4 linked regions of the Homo sapiens genome follow. The protein of the gene in region 1 purifies or fractionates together with the protein of each later gene. This does not show direct contact. Each region holds a gene or a part of one and is shown in the gene's direction. Other genes may lie near its edges.

The links. Proteins that work in one complex are often made in the same cells at the same time.
Region 2: the proteins of BSPRY (region 1) and SRGAP2 purify together in Homo sapiens (affinity purification with mass spectrometry; one large-scale study listed by BioGRID and IntAct). This does not show direct contact.
Region 3: the proteins of BSPRY (region 1) and TMF1 purify together in Homo sapiens (affinity purification with mass spectrometry; 2 studies listed by BioGRID and IntAct, with this or other methods). This does not show direct contact.
Region 4: the proteins of BSPRY (region 1) and DEAF1 purify together in Homo sapiens (affinity purification with mass spectrometry; 2 studies listed by BioGRID and IntAct, with this or other methods). This does not show direct contact.

The regions. Positions count from the first base shown.
Region 1 is NC_000009.12:113,356,041-113,359,540, forward strand, and holds part of BSPRY (B box and SPRY domain-containing protein), read left to right. Parts: intron 1-3,500. UniProt on the Homo sapiens protein: May regulate epithelial calcium transport by inhibiting TRPV5 activity.
Region 2 is NC_000001.11:206,451,541-206,455,040, forward strand, and holds part of SRGAP2 (SLIT-ROBO Rho GTPase-activating protein 2), read left to right. Parts: intron 1-1,659; coding exon 1,660-1,840; intron 1,841-2,603; coding exon of another isoform or gene 2,604-2,616; exon of another isoform or gene 2,617-3,337; coding exon 3,338-3,484; exon of another isoform or gene 3,485-3,500. UniProt on the Homo sapiens protein: Postsynaptic RAC1 GTPase activating protein (GAP) that plays a key role in neuronal morphogenesis and migration mainly during development of the cerebral cortex. Regulates excitatory and inhibitory synapse maturation and density in cortical pyramidal neurons.
Region 3 is NC_000003.12:69,035,334-69,038,833, reverse strand, and holds part of TMF1 (TATA element modulatory factor), read left to right. Parts: intron 1-113; coding exon 114-270; intron 271-3,500. UniProt on the Homo sapiens protein: Potential coactivator of the androgen receptor. Mediates STAT3 degradation. May play critical roles in two RAB6-dependent retrograde transport processes: one from endosomes to the Golgi and the other from the Golgi to the ER.
Region 4 is NC_000011.10:643,733-646,977, reverse strand, and holds the end of DEAF1 (deformed epidermal autoregulatory factor 1 homolog), read left to right. Parts: intron 1-422; coding exon of another isoform or gene 423-449; exon of another isoform or gene 450-646; intron 647-2,323; coding exon 2,324-2,428; 3' UTR 2,429-2,745; downstream 2,746-3,245. UniProt on the Homo sapiens protein: Transcription factor that binds to sequence with multiple copies of 5'-TTC[CG]G-3' present in its own promoter and that of the HNRPA2B1 gene. Down-regulates transcription of these genes.

The DNA.
Region 1 (3,500 bases):
ACAAAACAGAAATTCCTATTTTCATGAAGCCTACATTCTTGTCACAGAAGAGGGACAGTAACAAAATCTATGTTATGTCCGAAGGTGATATGTGCTATGGGGAAATATAAAACAGAAAGGGGAATAGGACGGGTTGCAATTACATGTGCTGTGACCAGGAATGACTTCATTAAGAAGGTTGAGGCTGGGCGCAGTGGCTCATGCCTGTAATCCCAGCACTTTAGGAGGCTGAGGCGGGTGGATCACGAGGTCAGGAGTTCCAGACCATCCTGGCTAACGCGGTGAAACCCCGTCTCTACTAAAAATACAAAAAAATTAGCAGGGCATGGTGGCGGGCGCCTGTATTCTCAGCTACTTGGGAGGCTGAGGCAGGAGAATCACTTGAACCCGGGAGGCGGAGGTTGCAGTGAGCTGAGACTGCGCACTGCACTGCAGCCTGGGCAACAGTGCGAGACTCTGTCTCAAAAAAAAAAGAAAGAAACACTTTGGCTGCTATGTTTAGAAGTGATTATAGGCGGCAAAGGTTAAAGCAGGGAGACCAGTTAGGAAGCCATTGTAATAATCCAGGTGGGAAACAAGTGTGGTCTGGACCCAAGCAATGGTGGCAAAGCTAGTGAGAAGTGGCTAGATTCTGCATATATTTTGAAGAGGCAACAGGATTTGCTGATGGACTAGATGTAGGCTATGAAAGAAAGAGGGGAGGTGTCAGGATAATGCTGAAGTTTTTTTATTTGAGCAACTGGCAGGATGGAGCAGCCATGAACTGGGTGGGGGAAGGACTGCATGTGGAGTGATGGTTGGCGGAGGCAGGGAGGGGAGTGGGGGAGAGCAGGCATGCTAAGTTGTTGTGGGCATGTTATGTTTGAGATACCTATTTGACATCCAAGTGAAGGTGCTGAGTAGGTAGCTGCATATATGAGTTGGGAGAGGGCTGGGTTGGAGATATAAATTTGGGATTTATCAGTGTATAAATAGTATTGAAAGCCGTGGGAGAGGATGACATCACTAAGTGAATGAGTGTAGACACGAAAGAGCAGCGGTCCAAAGACTGAGCCCTAGGGCACTTCACCTCCTATTGAGAAGACAGAAGGAACCAGCGAACGGGGACCAAGAAATCAGCTAATGAAACGGAAGTAAACTAAGAGAGCAGAGTGTCCCAGCATGGGTTCCAAGGAGGTGGGAGAGATCACTGCTCTCAAATGGTGTATATTTATTTAACTATCTTATCACAGGCATAGATTCATGTGATTACTACCACAATTAAAATACAGAACAGTTCCATCACTAGGACTCCTTGTGCTACCCTTTTATAGCCACATGTACCCTTTCCTATCCCCTTGTATTATTAATACAAAATTTCTGAATTTGGATTGCTAATCTCAGTAAAGCATTTTTTATTTTTGTTTTAGGATTTTTGCTTGTATGCTCAGGAGTGAGATTAGTCTATGAATTTCATTTCTTGTACAGTCCTCATCAGATTTGGTATCAAGGTTATGTGAGCCTTATTCAATGGATTGGAAAACAGAACTCTTTTTTCTTAAGGGTTTACTTAAGATAAAGTTGTTCTTAGTTTTGATCAAAGTTGCCACAGGTTTGACTGTTAGTCTTTAGAACCAGCTTCTAGTATTTTTGGTCTACTCTTTTGTATCTTTGTCTTAATTTCATTATTATTTCTTTCTCTTTTTTTAGACAAAGTCTCACTCCATTGCCCAGGCTGAAATGCAGTGGCGCAATCATAGCTCACTGCAGCCTTGAACTCCTGGGCTCAAGTGATCCTGCTGCCTTGGCCTCCCAAACTGCTTGGATTACCAGCATGACCCGGTACTGTGCCTGGCCTGTAGAGTTCTATATATATATATATATATATATATATATATATATATATATATATATATATATATATCTCTATTAAGCTTATTCATTGGGCTGAGCATGGTAGCTCATGCCTATAATCCCAGCACTTTGGGAGGCCAAGGCCAGGAGGATCACTTGAACCCAGGAGTTCGAGACTGTTTTGGGCAATATAGCAAGACCCTATCTCTACAAAAAATTAAAAAATTATCCAGACATGATGGCATGGGCCTATAGTCCCAACTATTTGGGAGGGTGAGGTGAGAGGATCACTTGAGCCTAGGAGTTTGAGGCTGCAGTGAGCTATGATTGCATCACTGCATTCTAGCCTGGGTGACAGAGCGAGACCCTGTCTCAAAAAACAAAAAATAAAAACCTCTTTTTTTTTCTTTTTTGAGACAGAGTCTTGCCCTGTCACCCAGGCTGGAGTGCAGTGGTGCGATCTCAGCTCACTGCAGCCTCCACCTCCCAGCTTCAAGCAATTCTCCTGCCTCAGCCTCCTGAGTAACTGGGATTACAGGCTCCCACCACCAGGCCCAGCTAATTTTTGTATTTTAGTAGAGGCGGGGTTTCACCTTATTGGCCAGGTTGGTCTTAAACTCCTGACCTTGGGTGATCCACCTGCCTCAGCCTCCCAAAGTGCTGGGATTACAGGTATGAGCCACCGTGTCCAGCCACAACCACACTTTTAAAAGGATGCTTGGGCTATTTTTCCAGCATTTCTCTACTTTATTCTGAGAGGGTTTTTGGTTTGTCTACTCTCTGTCATGTGTTTGGAAAGGGAAGTTTTTCTTTTCTTTGCTCTCCTTTTCTGGGAATGGCTCAACAAACTTGTTGAGAATGACTAGAGTCTTTTAGGCAGGAATCAGAATCTGATTCATCTTGGGTGAGGATCTGTTTTGATCCAGGATCACACAGTACAACCATGGTTTCAGGGGCTCACCCTGTGGGTAAGGCATTAAAGTGGGATAAACAGGAGAATAATCGTGGGCTGGATGCAGTTGCTCATGACTGTAATCCCAGCACTTTGGAAGACTGAGGCAGGAGGATCGCTTGAGCCCAGGAGTTCAAAGCTGCAGTGAGCTATGATTGTGCCACTGCATTTCAGCCTGGGCATCAGAGCAAGACTGTGTCTCTTAAAGAAAAGAAAAGAAAAGAAAAAAAAAAGATAAAGAAGAGCAATAGTGAATGAATGTTATTGAACACATAATGTAGCAGGCTTTGTTCTACTTACTTTATATATATTAACACATTTAACCCTCACTATAGCCTTATGAGGTAGGTACTATTATTATCCTCATTTTACAGATTAGAAAATAGAGGCATAGGGAAGATAAGGAATATGTTCTAAGTTCCACAGCTAATGAGCGGAGCAGTTAAGATTTAAATCTACACACTACCTCTAAAGCTTAATTTCCTGACCACTATGTTATGTTGCCTCAAGAGCACACTATAAACTTGGAGTCTTACCTTCTGGGTTCACTTGCCATTCACTTAGCTAGTCTCTCCTCCCTGTAAGGCAAACTGTGGGTCTCAGTGTTTTCTGTAAAATAGGAATGATTGCCCTGTGCACTGTACAAAGCAGGTCTTAAGGGACAGGGCATAGGGAAAGCTGCTGGCTGTCCCTGACTTTCTGACATGAAGGAGGC
Region 2 (3,500 bases), on another chromosome or scaffold:
GGAATTCTGCAATTCTAGGCCAGCTTTCAAAGGAGAAAAAAAAAAAATAGGACTGCTTATTTAGATCCTGATGTCATAAGGATCCATATGATCATTTGCTACATTCGAGGAGGGGAGTAGGTGAACTAGGAAAATGAGTAGTGGGTTAGAGCCTACCTCGTGGCCAGCTCTGCTAGAGGCTTTATATATGTTATCTCTTAATCTGTAGTGAAAAAGATATGGCCGCTATTTTACAGTTGAGAAAATGCAGGTCAGGGAGGTCGAGTAACGTACCCGAGGCTGTAGAGAACTAACTGAGGTGGGTATATTTAGACAGGCCTTCTCTGACCAGCCTCCTATAGTGAAATCTCCAACCCCTCCTGTGCAGGAGCAGACCCACCAGCTAGGGCCATCTAGGCATGGTCTTATTTTTAAGCAGCCTTTCTCTCTGCTTCCCAGAATAGCCGACTTTCATCTCAGGTTCCAGCTTTCTGGGAGCCTTCTCTTTGCTCTTTGATCTCTACCTGCAGCCTAGCACAGACGAAGATAATGATAACAATAAGTCATGCACACATACCACTTACTATGGGCGGGACACTGTTCTAAGCACTTTTACAAATTGTAATTCATTGACTCTTCATAACAACTTCATGAAAAAGACACGATTATTAATCTCCATGTTACAGATGAGGAGACAGAAGCCCACACAAAAATAAAGATAGATTGCATTCGTAGACCCCTTTTACTTTTTTAGATTACTTTCATGTGCATTTTTTTCATAGGTTGGTCACAAAATATATTTTCATATTTTGCTCCTTGGAAAGTTGATTGAGCAAGTTATTTTCTCTTTATAGAGAGACAGAAAGCTCACATTCTACTTACTAGGGGGAATGGATAACATAAAATATTTAGAATACATGTATGTATTCTAAAAAATGTATGATACATTTTCTACAATTACTGGAATTATTATATAATTAGAAAAGAAATAATGCTTAAAAATATAGTATGGCAAGTTTGATGATAGACGTCAAGGCATGAAGATCTTTGGAAACACCAAAGAAGTTACTGTAGAAAGCAGGGGATGCGGTCGGGCGCGTGGCTCACGCCTGTAATCCCAGCACTTTGGGAGGCCGAGGCAGGCAGATCACGAGGTCAGGAGATCAAGACCATCCTGGCTAACATGGTGAAACCCCGTCTATTAATAATACAAAAAATTAGCTGGGCGTGGTGGCACACGTCTGTAGTCCCAGCTACTTGGGAGGCTGAGGCAGGAGAATCGCGTAAACCCGGGAGGCAGAGGTTGCAGTGAGCCAAGATCGAGCCACTGCACTCCAGCCTGAGCGACAGAGTAAGACTCCATCCCAAAAAAAAAAAAAAAAAAAAAAAATGGGATGCTTGAGTTGTGTTTTGATGTGCTTCATCAGGCAGATAAGAGAGAAGAAGATTCCTGGTGGAGGGAACAGTGTGAGCAAAGGCAGGTAAAAGGTGATACCAGTGCTTTCAGGATAATGGTATAGTCTGCGTGAGAATTACTTGCTTTATAGATCATCCATGGCTTCGTTTTCCCACTAAGTAATTTCCTACCACTGTAAGTTCAGCTAATTCAGCTTTTCCACCCAGTTTCCTGAGTCTGCAGGTCCCAAGAACATGTGTTTACTTCTTTTCCACCCTTCTCAGAATGTGAGCCCATCGAGGCCATTGCCAAGTTTGACTACGTGGGCCGGACAGCCCGAGAGCTATCCTTTAAGAAGGGAGCATCCCTGCTGCTTTACCAGCGGGCTTCCGACGACTGGTGGGAAGGCCGGCACAATGGCATCGACGGACTCATCCCCCATCAGTACATCGTGGTCCAAGACACGTACGTTGGGCCCATGGCATCTTTGGGGGTGGTCCCCAGCTGCTCTATGGGAGTGAGACTTCATTTCTGGAGCCATAGGACTATGAGGGAGGCCAACCCCTGGGGGGTCCAGTGCAGTCCTGAGGCTCACACAGTTCCTTGAAGAGCACCCCCCCCACCCCCCGCCCCACTCCCTGCACTCAGTGGAGAATTTTTTTAAATCTCTCCACTATCTGTGCCCCCTGCAAATCACCCCCTAATCCAGTCATTTTAGAAACCTGCCAGCCAGCCAGCACTCATCCATATTTATACCTGATGAGTGATAACAAGGGGTTTTTATTTGACCACCTATATTTCTTTTCTCGAAAGATCAGGCTGGGAAAACATTTTTGTTACTCTCTTTTTTTTTTAAACAACTATGCTCACCCCAACCTGTTGAGCCACTCTTCCACTTGCAAATTAAAATGACTGGTTTTCTAGGAGAAATCCGGCTTAAGCAGCCTTATGGAAGTGACCTAGTTCATTTAACCGAGATGAGGTTGATATAGGGTAAGATGGGGGAAGGAGGGAAAAGGATGTCAAGGAACAAAGGAAACCTGAACTGGTCCCAGAGAGATCTCATCTGATAGGCTGTTGGTTGATTCTCACACTTTGAAGCAGTTGTCCCGTGGGCCCACCCAAGCCTGCCCCCTGTCCGTTTGCCCTGTCTCTGTCCCCAGCTCCCCTCCCTTGGATACGATGCTGTCAGTGTTTTTAGTCCTTCCCTTAATATTATTTTTTAAAGGTTGATATCCTGAGTGAGTCTGCACCCTCCCAGCCTCTTCCCGGCTCGTTCTGCAGGGAAATCCTCCCTCTGTTGATAGCATCGCAAACCTGGTGGCAATCTGTGCGTGGACAGGACCCTCCCAAATTTAGCATTATGACTTCACCACAGGATCAAGAGAAGATGAATTGTGGGGGAGAAGGGGCTTTCTTTGTCATCAGTAGCCAGAGGGGCCAGGAGAGCAGTGGAGAGACCTGGGACCGGCTTGGATGCTCTGAGCGGGGCTAGAGGCGCTACGACAGTGTGTGGCGGTGTCCTGCCACGACGCCGCCGTCTCCAGAGCCACCACACAGTTGACTGTCCTTACCCGGCAGTGCTCAGGACCTCAGCCGATAAACCACAACCTGGACTTGCCGCCTCCTTCTCCAGGAGGCCGCCCCAGCACGGCCTCCCCAGGAAGCAGCATGGGGTAGAAGGCAGATGCCTCGAATCCAGGTGTCCCCTAGCCACGCTTTCCTGAGGAGCTGAGGAGCCCGCAGAACTCAGCGGATTATTTATTTTTATTTAAACGACCCTTCAAAGGCCCTTAGGTTTCCTTGCCTCTGCTCACAGAACTAGTCCAGCCAGGTGTCGCTGCTGCCTCAGAGCTGTGTGGGGTCGCGTGTATGTCGGGGGGCCATCTTGCCGATTTAACGCTGCTTTTTGTGTTGTTGTTGTTTTCCCTCCTCCCTGCCTGCCTGCCCCTTCTCCCCCAGCGAGGACGGTGTCGTGGAGAGGTCCAGCCCCAAGTCTGAGATTGAGGTCATTTCTGAGCCACCTGAAGAAAAGGTGACAGCCAGAGCGGGGGCCAGCTGTCCCAGTGGGGGTCATGTAGCCGATATTTATCTTGCAAACATCAACAAGTAAGCTCTGCTTTTC
Region 3 (3,500 bases), on another chromosome or scaffold:
TGAACAAATATGCAACCCATTTAGAATGAATTATCAGAGTAGGATGTTGAAGAAATACTTTTTCTATTATCTGATCACTGGCAACATTTATAAACTCAATCTAATTTTTTAAGAGAACTTACTGATCTTCACAAAGCCAATGCTGCAAAGGATAGTGAGGCACAGGAAGCTGCTCTGAGCCGTGAAATGAAAGCTAAAGAAGAACTTTCTGCAGCATTAGAGAAGGCCCAAGAAGAAGCCCGTCAGCAGCAAGAAACATTAGCCATTCAAGTAAGCAATGGATGATGAATTAGAGTAGTTTTAAAAATATTTGTTTATGCTTCTACAAATTAAACAATTAGCTGGTTTGAATCAAACAATGTAGTGATACATGTGTTAGATTTCAGAGTACTGGATTCTGCTAAATTTAACCAGTTGTGTTTTTTAAAACTGTTAAAGTAATGCTTACGTGATACCAGTATTGTTTAATTTTTTTGAGTTTTAGACCCATTTGAGAGTATTATAAAAGCTAGGAACCCTCTTAGAAGAGAAGAGCAAAAATGCACATACATATTGCATATAATTTTGAGAGAATCCATTTAACTCCTGAGCTCATTCATAACATCTGTGGGAGTCCAAGGACCTCAGATGAAGTAGGAAAAACAAAATTTGTGAGGCTTTGTCTTATCAAATCATCAGTTGATGGGCATATGGGTTATTTATACTTTGTGGTTATTATCAATAATGCTGCTTTAAATATCCATGCACAAATTTTTGTGTGAACATATATTTTAAATTCTCCTAGATATATATCCTTAGGTCATATGGTAACTCTATATATTTAACTTTTTGAGGAACTGGCAAACTTTTCCACAGTGGCTGCATTACTTTACATTCCCACCAGCAATAGGTGAGGGTTTCAGTTTCTCCACATCCTTGCCAAGATTTATTATTGTCTGTTTTTAAAAGTATAGCCTTTTTAGTGTGTGTGAAGTGGTAACTGAGTATGGTGTTGATTTGCATTTTTTTTTTTCAATTTATATATATTTTTTGAGACAGAGTCTCACTCTTGCCAGACTGGAGCACAGTGGCACGATCTCAGCTCACTGCAACCTCTGCCTCCCGGATTCAAGCAATTCTTCTGCCTCAGCCTCCTGAGTAGCTGGGACTACAGGCAGGTGCTACCATGCCTGGCTAATTTTCTTTTTTTGTGAGACAGAGTTTCGCTCTTGTTGCCCAGGCTGGAGTGCAATAGCGCAATCTCGGCTCATTGCAACCTCCACCTCCCAGGTGCAAGTGATTCTCCTGCTTCAGCCTCCCGAGTAGCTGGGATTACAGGTGCCCACCACCATGCCCGGCTAATTTTTGTTTTTTTTTAGTAGAGACGAGGCTTCACCATGTTGGCCAGGCTGGTGTTGAACTCCTGACCTCTGGTGATCCACCCGCCTCCGCCTCCCAAAGTGCTTGGATTACAGGCATGAGCCACCATGCCCGGCCACCCTGCTAATTTTTTTTTGTATTTTTAGTAGACATGGGGTTTCAGCGTGTTAGCCAGGATGGTCTCAATCTCCTGACCTCGTGATCCGCCTGCCTTGGCCTCCCAAAGTGCGGGGATTACAGGCGTGAGCCACTACGCCCGGCTGATTTGCATTCTCTTAATGACTAATGATGTTGGATGTCTTTTCATTTGCTTATTGGCCATTTATGTATCTTCTTGGGAGAAATTAATTAAAATATTCAAATCCTTTGCACATTTTTAAATTGGGCGGTTTGTCTTTTTATTGTTATTATGAGTTCTTTGTATAATCTGCATACTAGACCTTTATCAGATATAGGATTTGTCAATATTTTGTGCCTCTCTGTGGGTTGTCTTTCTTTTTCTTGATAGTGTCCTTTGATGCCAAAAGGTTTTAATTTTAACAAAGTCTAGCTTATCTATGTTTTCTTTTGTTATTTGTGCTTTTGGCATCATATTTAAGAAACCATTGCTTAATCCAAGTTTATGCAGATCTTCATCAGTTTTCTTCTAAGAGTTTTGTAGTCTTAGCTCTCACATTTAGGTCTTTTGCATGTGGATATCCAGTTGTTGCAGGACCAGTTGTTGAGAAAACTATTTTTATTGACTCCTATGCCCTTTTGATTTAATTTTAAGTTTTGTATGTGTAAAACATTTACATGATTCCAAAGTGAGAGCAAAATCTATTCAGACATTTACTTCCAATTTAGCTGCTCCCCATTTCCTCTCTTTGCCTGTAGGTAACCATTTTATTAGAGTTTGGCTTATCTTTTCAGTGTTTCTATTGGCAAAATGCAAGAAAATATATGTATCTATATACTTACATGTTCTGCGTACATACACATTCGCTTATACACCTATTTCTGTCTCCTACATCCTTTTTACATAAATGACAGTTTATTATTCACACTGTTTTATAACTTGTTTTATTTTCTTAGTAAAATATCCTGATGATCACTCTAGTAAAACATAGAGGTTTTTAAAAAATATCTTTTTACAGTTTTATAATACTTCATTAGGTGAAGGATTTTCAGCTCTTTCTTATTGATAGATTATACACCTATTTCTATCTCCTACATCCTTTTTACGTAAATGATAGTTTATTGTTTATACTGTTTTATAACTTGTTTTATTTACTTAGTAAAATATCCTGATGATCACTCTAGTAAAACATAGAGGTTTTTAAAAAATATCTCTTTACAGTTTTATAATACTTTATTAGGTGAAGTATTTTCAGCTATTTCTTATTGATGGATATTTGGGTTATTTTCAGTATTTTGCTATTATAAGTCATGCCATGGTCCATATATCCTTTGTGTTTCTGCTGGGATAGATAAAATATCAGTAATTTAAATTTAAAATACGTTAGAATAATAATAATACAGAAAAATTGGGGGAATGGGAGATAGAGCATATATGAGTTACCATGCATAAATCCATCACTTTTTCCAAGTACTGTCAGTTTTGTGTGTTAGTGTTTCATTCTATTCCCATATATGTGTTTTTCATAATTGATGTCTTACGTGTTATTTTATAGTTTTTCCATTTAATAGTATATTAGAAATTTTTTTTACATGTTTTATACATTTATTGTAATTTTTAATGGTTATATTCATGTTGTATCGACATTTGCAACTATAGATTACTAGTGATGGAGATTTAGAATATTTCCAGTTTTGTTTTTGCTAGCCTATTTAATACTGTAGGGAATATCCCTGTGTATTTACGTATCTGCTTTCTTAGAGTGAATTCCCAAGACTAGGATGGCCCGGTGAAAGGATGTGAGAAGTTTGATGATTCTTTAAACATATTATAACGTTTTCCAAAAAGGCTATGGTAGTTTATAATGTATGCTCCTGCATATGAGTGGAGCCCCCAGCTTTTATAATCCGTATAGCACCTATCACTTTCTGTGTGATGTGGCAAATATTTATAGACGCACTGTCTTTTCTCCAATATTGTATGGTAATGGCTATGCCTTATACATATTTGTTTGCGTTTCTTT
Region 4 (3,245 bases), on another chromosome or scaffold:
GGGTTTTGCTATGTTGCTCAGGCTGGTCTCCAACCCCTGACCTCAAGTGACCTCAACCTCCCGAAGTCATTGTTTTTACAGTCTGTGATGTTGGCTTTTCTCATTTATTTGTATCAGGCACTTTCATTGTTAGCTTCTTGTGAATTTAACCATTTTTTTCCGTTTTTCAAAAACTGAAACGCTAACTTCTAATTCTGGCTTTTCAGATAATGATTTTTTTTTCAAAAGTGTTTTAGCATTATACTGTAAGAAGCATCACATTGATGTTTAAGATGGAAAAATTTGCTTTAAAAAAGAACTGAGTAGTTCTGATTTTAAAAGTCAACCCTGGGCCTTTGCCTCTTTGCTGGAAGAACCTGATGGAAGCTTCTGTAGCTCAGAGTCAACACTGATGTGCGCCCTCTCTCCCTCCATCTGCACAGGCCCCAGGGAGTGGCTCAAACCTGTAGACCAGAGAAGGAAGCATCTAGAACTCCTGGGGGCCTTGTCCGCCGCCCACATCCTCTCACGGGGGGCAGCTCCCATGAGGGGTGCAGGCCCCTCACCCCACACAGAGTCTCGGCAGGAACCGGAACCCTTCCTGGTTGCCCCAGAGTGGAGGCCCGGGAGGGGCGGGCGGTGGGTCTGCACCCGATGCTGCAGTTTGCTGATGTATGTGCTTTCATGCTATGTAGATTTATAGTCTATTACCAGGTAATTTTAATTTTTTTTTTTTTTTTTTTTTTGAGACGTAGTCTCACTCTGTCGCCCGGGCTGGAGTGCCGTGGCACAATCTTGGCTTACTGCAACCTCTGCCTCCCAGGTTCAAGTGATTCTTGTGCCTCAGCCTCCCAAGTAGCTGAGATTGCAGGTGCGCATGACCACAGGCGGCTAGTTTTTGTATTTTTAGTAGAGATGGGGTTTTGCCATGTTGGGCAGGCTGGTCTCGAGCTCCTGGCCTCAGGTGATCTGCCCACCTCGGCCTCCCAACATGATGGGATTACAGCCGTGAACCACTGCGCCCGGCCTAATTTTGCTCTTTTATTATAATCAGCTGGAATTCTGCTCTCTAGGGAATAACTCTGTCACCATTTGGAAGCATTTATTTCTGCTCTGTGTGTCATATACGTACCTATCACGCCCCCGTGCACGGAGCTGCCTCTGTCTGACGAGGCCGTCTCAGCTTCAGCACCTGGCGCTTCCTCTAGAGCTCTGCTCCATTCCGAGGTGCTCGACGTAGCAGGGAGGCAGAGCCTGGTTCTGTGTGCTGACCTCACAGGAGCTGTGGCTTCTCCCAGGCACCATCCCCCACCTCCTTTCTCTGCAGCCACGGGCTGGTTCCAGTTTGCTTTTTCATCTTTGCCATTAAAAACAGAACTGGGGCGGGGCGCAGTGGCTCACACCTGTCATCCCAGCACTTTGGGAGGCCGAGGCGGGCAGATCCCCTGAGGTCAGGAGTTCGAGACCAGCCTGACCAACATGGTGAAACCCTGTCTCTACTAAAAATGCAAAACATTAGCCAGGTGTGGTGGCGTGCACCTGTAATCCCAGCTGCTAGGGAGGCTGAGGCAAGAGAATTGCTTGAACCCAGGAGGCAGAGGTCGTGGTGAGCCGAGATTGCGCGTTACACTCCAGCCTGGGAAACAAGAGCGAAACTCTGTCCGAAAAACAACAAAAAAACCCCCACAGAACTTGATCGTAATTTACATATGTAATATTTACATATTTAAATGTTTTTCTGCATGTGTGATATTTTTTGTTTACATCCCTAACACAAAACAACTGGTTTGGAGAGTCTTACCCTGGTTTGTTGTTTGACTTTTTTTTTTTTTTTTTTTGATATGGAGTTGTTCTGTCACCCGGGCTGGAGTGCAGTGGCACCATCTCGGCTCCCTGCAACCTCTGCCTCCCAGGGCTGAGCAGTTCTCCTGCCTCAGCTTCCCGAGTAGCTGGGATTAGAGGTGCCTGCCACCATGCCCAGCTAATTTTTGTATTTTTAGTAGATACGGGGTTTCACCATGTTGGCCAGGCTGGTCTCGAACTCCTGACCTCAGGGGATCCACCCTCCTGGGCCTCCCAAAGTGTTGGGATTACAGGCGTGAGCCACCGTGCCCTGCCTGTTGTTTGCCTTTTGATCCAATTCCTCAAACCAAGAGAGTGTGGGGAAGGCTGTATTGGAGCAGAGCCCACCAGAGTTTGGGCGCACGGGGGCTGGGGAGGGCATTCTCAGCACCTCCAGGTGAGGTTACAGAGGGCTGCACCCTCTGGGGTCTGCCTTGGGGACCCTGCCCAGACCCTGCTCCACCCACTGACCCTGCTGACATGGGTGTGTCCTCCCTTCCAGGACTGGAAGGATCACCAGCACATATGCGGCCAGTCAGCAGCTGTCACCGTCCAGGCAGACGAAGTCCACGTGGCTGAAAGCGTGATGGAGAAGGTGACCGTGTGAGGCTCCATCGGCCGCCCTGGGAGCTGGGGCCCCTCGCACTCCTGTGAGGCTTTTGCAGGTCGAAGGCCCCCCTGAGGACTCTGGGGGGACGTTGAGAAGAGGGGTGTGGGAAGGTAAAGAAACTTGCTGGACAAGTCATTAACACACTTTAAGCGAATGGTGCCCTGGGAAGCGCACTCCCCCTGCCCGGGCCCCCTGCCCGCTCGCGGACAGATTTTTTATCCCTGGGATCATGAGCGTCCGGTCTTGCCCACAGGGCCTGTGCTGCGACGCACATACATACGTGTTGTGTCTGTCAATAAAGTGTAAATAAGGTCTCCCTGCCCCACACGGCCGGTTGCAGTGCCAGCCCTCGGGGGGGGGTTTCCTCCCCTTCCTCCTACTGCGCAGGTGGGAAAACCAAGCCCACCGCACCTCTGGTGCACGGGACAGCGCGGCCAGGCCGGAGCCTCCGGTGCACGGGGCAGCGCGGCCGGGCTGAAGCCCTGGCGTCTGGTGGCTCGTGTAGTCCAGGAGGTCTTCGTTCCTTCTGTTCCACGAGACCCTCGTGGCTGCTGGGAGGTGCAGCAGGCCTACGGCCCTTCCCGCCAGGTTTCGGGGCACATGGTGCCTCCTGTGCCCTGGCTGCTTGAGCGAGCCCGACGGTCCAGCACGGCCTGTTCAGTCCACGTGGACAGCTTGGTGGCCTCGGTCCAGGGATCCACACGCAGAGCCTCATGGCCTCCTGGTCTCCCCCTTGTTTCTCATGGCCCTGGCGCCAGGTGGAGGAGAAAGGGCTGAAGCCTGTGGGGGGCACAAGGGGGCGTGTCCAGCGTGT